Linked DNA regions of Homo sapiens. The protein of the gene in region 2 purifies or fractionates together with the protein of the main gene of each other region. This does not show direct contact. Each region holds a gene or a part of one and is shown on either strand. Other genes may lie near its edges.

Region 1 (2,380 bases), on a different chromosome or scaffold from region 2:
GTAGTCCAGGAAGACTCTAGAACCTTCTGAGGACCTTGCCAGAGGAGGATGGGGAGAGTGTGCAGGCCAGGAGAGGAGGTGGGCCACAATGACCCACTGACAAGTAATGGAAAGAGGAGCCTCTCTGTCTTGCTGGTGTTTTTCTTTTTTTTATTTTGGAGATGGAGTCTCGCTCTGTCGCCCAGGCTGGAGTGCAGTGGCGTGATCTTGGCTCACTGCAAGCTCCGCCTCCTCCCAGGTTCACACCATTCTTCTGCCTCAGCCTCCCAAGGAGCTGGGACTACAGGCGCCCACCACCACACCTGGCTAATTTTTTGTATTTTTAGTAGAGACGGGGTTTCACTGTGTTAGCCAGGATGGTCTCGATCTCCTGACCTCGTGATCTGCCCGCCTCAACCTCCCAAAATGCTGGGATTACAGGCGTGAGCCACTGCACCTGGCCTGTTTTTCTTTTTCTTTTTTTTTTTTGGAGATGGAGTTTTGCTCTTGTCGCCCAGGCTGGAGTGCAGTGGTGCAATCTTGGCTCACTGCAACCTCCGCCTCCCAAGTTCAAGCGATTCTCCTTCCTCAGCCTCCTGAGTAGCTGGGATTACAGGCGTGCGCCACCACGCCTGGCTAATTTTTTTGTATTATTAGTAGAGATGGCGTCTCACCCTATTGGCCAGGCTAGTCTCAAACTCCTGACCTCGGGTGATCCGCCCACCTCGGCCTCCCAAAGTGCTGGGATTACAGGCATGAGCCACTGCACCTGGCCGGTCCTTCTCTTTATGATCTCGTGGTTACGGTGGGCTGATCACTCACTCCTTCCTGGAGACAACTTTCTTCCCTTGGCTTTTCAGGCAGCTGCTCGCCTGGTGTTCCTCTTCCCTCACTAACTGTTCCTTCTCAGTTTCTCTTGCCGCTCACTCTCAGCTCCCAGAGTTGGAACACGTCGTATCATTGTCTGCCTTTCCCTTTCTAGAATGTAAGGGCCTGCAGGTTAGGGTGTTTGCGTCCTGCACTATAATATCTGCGGTAACCAGAACAGTGCCTGGCACAGCGTAGGCCCGGCTTATGTGTTTGGTGAATGAGTACGTGCTTAAGTATCCGCAGCCGTGGGTCAGTGTCGGTACTCGCTCCCTGGGAGATCTCATCCAGGTTCACAGCTTTCAATGACATGTGTGTGCTCATAATGCCCACCTTGGCTGCTCCTTCCTGGTTCCATCCTCTTTTCCAGTTGCCCAGGTGGCGTCTCTACATGGGTGTCTAAAAGATCTCAAACATTGTGCCACCGCACTCCAGCCTGGCGACAGAGCGAGACTCCATCTCAAAAAAAAAAAAAAATCTCAAACTCGCCACATTGAAACTGAACCCCCAGTCTCACCAATGCACCCTACCCCTAGACTCCACAATCTTCCCTTTCCCAGTGAACAGGCAGCCCCAGGCTTCAGTTTGCTGTGACCACACCCACACAGTCATCCTCTTCTTTCTCCAGCCCAGCATCTGTCCAGCAGCCGATCCTCCAAAACAAGTTCAGAGCTCACACTGCTGTCACCACATCCACTGCTGCTACCCTAGTCAGGGCCGGCTCTCGCCTGGTTCCTGTAACAAACCTAAGCCAGGTCTCCTGGCTGCTGAGCTTTGCCCGCTATGCTCTGCTCTCCTGTAGCAGCCAGAGTGTCCCTGCTGAGAACACAAGTCAGATCCAGTCACTCCTCTACTCATGGCCTTTCTGTGCTGCTCCTGTTGCACTCCAGATAAAAGCCAGAGCCTTCATGGTGACTAGTGAGCTCCCCACAGGCTCCTGACCTCTCCCCCCACATCCCGCTCCCCGCACAGGCACTGGCCTTGCTGTTCCTGGGGAAGCCAGCGTGCTCCACCAGGGCATCCACATTTGCTCCTCCCTCTGCTCAAAATGCTGTTCCCTCCCTGTCTGCCTCACTGGCTCCTCACTCCCTCTGTGTCTGTGGTCCCCTGTCAGCTTTCTGCTATCCTATTATCCTATCTCCTTTCCCTGGTGTACTTTGCTACTTTGCATCTGTCCATATATAACATACTGCATTTTTTATTTGTTTATCCTATTTATTAGCTCTGATAAATAGAATGTGAAGTCCCAGAAGGCCACTTAGGGAGCTCCATTCACCGCTGTACCCCTAGCAATCCAAACGGCATTGGGCATATAGTACTCAATAAATTATTGTCAAATTAATGAACAAATGGGGTTCAGTGTTCCTTCAGGGAGCCTATAGTTTATCAGGGAGACAAACTGTGTTCTGGGAACACAGAATAGCATTTGGTAGGTGATAAAAATGGGGTGGCAGCCACTAAGTCATTTTAAATTCCAGCACATCGCACAGCAAAATTGTACCTGTTTTCTGTGCCACATTTTAAATAATCGTGT
Region 2 (3,500 bases):
GAGAGGGGAAGGTACTAGGAGGAAAAGACCACTTTTTAAATGCAATTTTGGTCCTCACTATAACCCTGCCAGGGTCCATGTCTCTTTTCCCATTTCACAGATGTGGAGACTAAGGCCCAACTTAGAAGAGAGCCGGCTGTGAATGAACCAGGTACTGCTCTGAGTGGATTTGCCTGAGTAATTTACGTGGATTAACCTAAGTAACCCTGTCACAGCCACTTTACAGATGTCACCTGGGGAAAGATGGGGCTTCTCAAGAACCAATGTTTGGGGTTCTGCAAAGAGGGCAGGAGAGGCACTCCTGAAGGCCCTGCGGGGCCAGGCCTCCCTTGCTCCACACTGGCCTTGGACTGGCCCCTCCCTCTACCAGGAAGCCTCCCTGATGGCTGGGCAAGGCCTATTAGACTCCTGCTTTCCTTGGGAAAGGGCTATTTTTGATTCCAATCAGCCTCCCAGAGTGTCCCTTGAGGCTGCTGGCCTCCCTCCAAGACTTAGGCCCAGAAGGCCGCCCAACCCCCAGACAGAGGTCTCAGAAATCAAGCTGGGCAGCATCTTCATGACAAGGGGAAACTGAGGTCCAAAGAGGGGCAAGGCATCACCCGAATCAATGCCCTCTCCCAAGAGATAGGTGCTCTGACCTTGTCCATTTTACAGATGGAGAAACTACTATTCCAGAGGCTCTCCCGGCTAACAACCAGCAAAGCTGGGATGTGAACTCAGTCAGGCTGGCTCCACACGCTGCTTCATAACTTCCCCCTCGTGCCAGGGCTGAGCAGCACCACCTGTCCCCCAGGAGACGCCGCCATAGCATCCCTGACAGCTGTCACCAGCCTACGACTGCATCCGTTCAGGGACAGGGAGTTTCCTGTCCTGAAGCGGCCCGTGCATTGCACACTTACTAACAGCCAGACCCACAGCTGAGCCTGTACACACATGAACCCTTTTGACTCTACCACCAACCCCATAATAACACTGGCTAATATCTCCATTTTGTGCATTTTATCCATTTTACCCATAAAGGTGGGTAACTTACCCAAGAACCCTTGAAGGCTGAGGACCTCAGTGGGAAAAGCAAGAGATATGTGGGTCCACAGTGGGGTAGGAAATTTGCCTCTTCAAAGGCAGAGTCCCTCTCTCTCAAGTAAACTCCATAACAGCTGTGCTTCCAAGGGTTTGAGCACTGTTGTGGTCCTATCATTCACCTGTCCATCTAGCATTTATTAAATACCTTTTGTGTACCCAGCCTTGGGTTAGGTCCTGGGGTTACGAGTATGACATAGTCCTGCTCCTCAGAAGTTTCCAGACTTTCTAGGGAGACAGGCCTCTAGCAGGTAGTCCAAGGAGTAGACTTTCTCAAGGTCCTGTCAAGGTTAAACCCTTCTCCTCCCTCTGCGTGTACCCTCCATGCAGCAGGCAAAGAGGCTGGTATGGTGCCCAGGGCACAGATATAGGCCAGGGGGTGCTGGGCAGCTGGGAGGATAGCTGGCTGCAGCTGGATGAGGACAGATCTGCTCCAAACCCATGTGTGTGTCAGTTGCTTGGGTCAGTGTTCCTGGAATTGCCAGAAAGAGCATTGGATTTGAGGTTGGAAGATCAGGCTTCAAATCCCAGCTTTCTATATGTCTCTCCTCCTATAAACCCTTCCCCTCCCGCTCTAAACCTTACCTGCCTCATCTGTAGAATGGGACCAATAACGTATGCGCATCAGGGTCCTTTTGGAAGGAGAGGGGCTGTAGAGGAATTAAGTTAATTCAGTGAAAATCTTCCTACCTTCCAGGGCTGTGTGAGGTAATGACATGGATAATTGGCCAATGTAAAGTCTCTGAGTGGTGTCAACCCATGGGAGAGGCTTGGGAAGGGCCTGGTAAGTCTGGAATTAGCTTCGGGATTGGTGATTCTGGGTGACCATTACCTGGCTGCCTTCGCCTCCAGGAAGGCACATGGTCAGGGAAGGGCCACTGCAGCCATGTGCTGTCTATGAGTCTCTGGCCCATACCAGGCTGCAGGGCCAGCAGCTGCCTGGAGATGATGAGGGGTCCCCACGAAATAATCATGTTACCCCTTACAAGCTGCCTACACATCTTAGCTCACATATGCTTCTACAGCATAGCGAAGTAGCTTATCTCCTTCCCATTTTTATTAATAAAGGAACTGAGGCCCAGAAAAGGGGAAGTGACCTGCCCCAGGTCATATAGCTAGTAAGTTGCAGAATTGAAAGTAGACTTAGGGGTCCTGACCTCCAGACTCAAGATCCCTCCACTCCCCCCGGGTTTTCTGTTCCCCCATGGCCAATACTAACCTCTTTTTGTCGACACGGCCATAGGGGATCCCCAGGGACAGAGAATTTGAGGTTTAATAGCACAGAGCCAAACCAAACGTCTCGCTGAGTTGCAGACTCTTTAGAACTGAAAAATCTGCGGAAAACTTCCAGCCCCAAATCGTCCTTTTGCAATGAGGAAACTGAGGCCCAGAGTAGGACAGGGACTTAGCTGAGGTCACAAAGCACTTTGGCCTTAGCAGGGCAATTATAGCTCAGCCTATGACTCTTAGTGCAGTGCTCTTCCCCCTTGTGCCCTGGCTTTGAGCAGACACCTTTAGATGGTGGCACCAGGATGCCAGGCCAGGTCCTGGGCACCAGCACTTCCTGCTAGTTCAGCACCATGTGCACTGAGCCCCTACCTTGCACCAGGCGGTGGGGTATGTAAAGCCAGACCAGCTTTAGAGAAGAGAAGGGTGTCATACCTCACTGGGCAGAGCCCCTTCCCCCCGCCACTGAAGGCAGACCTGGGCCAACTCAGACCTGGCAGGGACCCCAGCCTCAGAGAAGCAACAAAGGAGTGGGAAGCCAGGCCTGGGCCAGCTGGAGATGGGGGCTCCACCCAGCTGCACAGGTACCTCCTGCCAGTACAAGGGCCAGAGGACAGGCTCTAGTCTACCCTGCCATTTAACAGATGGAAAAACTGAGGACACAAGAGAGGAAGAGAGGCGCTCATGGCTGACTTGGGACAGAAACCCAAGTCCCTTGGTTCCCTGTCCTGGGCTCCTTTCACAATAAATAAAACTGCTGCTACTGCTGTAAATAACAGCACTCCAAGCATCGGGCATAAAATGATTGTGAGGTCATGACCCTTCCCCTCCTCTAGTGTGGACCACAGACTGGCCACCTGACATATTAATCTCATTGAGCAGGGGTTCTCAACTCTGGCCACACACTAACATCACCAGAGAAGCCTCTAGCATTGCATTCCCTGGGTCCCAGCCCTGAGGCTTTGAGTTCATTGATTCAGGGCTGAACCAGGTCCTTGACATGTTTTCAAGACTCTCAGCCAGGCCTGAGAGACATTCGTTAAGATGATTTGACTGCCTATAAGAGAAAACCCAACTAACATTGGCTAAACCACAAGAATCTTCAGTACCTAACAAGTAGGCTAGGGTGGGCGGACCCAGCATTGGTTCAGCAGTTCTGCAACATAATGAAGGACCCAGAAAAACTATTATTC

The links. Proteins that work in one complex are often made in the same cells at the same time.
Region 1: the proteins of ASB2 (region 2) and SPINDOC purify together in Homo sapiens (affinity purification with mass spectrometry, with the first as the bait; one large-scale study listed by BioGRID). This does not show direct contact.

Annotation. Positions count from the first base shown.
Region 1 is NC_000011.10:63,823,456-63,825,835, forward strand, and holds part of SPINDOC (spindlin interactor and repressor of chromatin-binding protein), read left to right. Parts: exon of another isoform or gene 1-2,192; intron 2,193-2,380. UniProt on the Homo sapiens protein: Chromatin protein that stabilizes SPIN1 and enhances its association with histone H3 trimethylated at both 'Lys-4' and 'Lys-9' (H3K4me3K9me3).
Region 2 is NC_000014.9:93,966,571-93,970,070, reverse strand, and holds part of ASB2 (ankyrin repeat and SOCS box protein 2), read left to right. Parts: intron 1-100; exon of another isoform or gene 101-151; intron 152-3,500. UniProt on the Homo sapiens protein: Substrate-recognition component of a SCF-like ECS (Elongin-Cullin-SOCS-box protein) E3 ubiquitin-protein ligase complex which mediates the ubiquitination and subsequent proteasomal degradation of target proteins.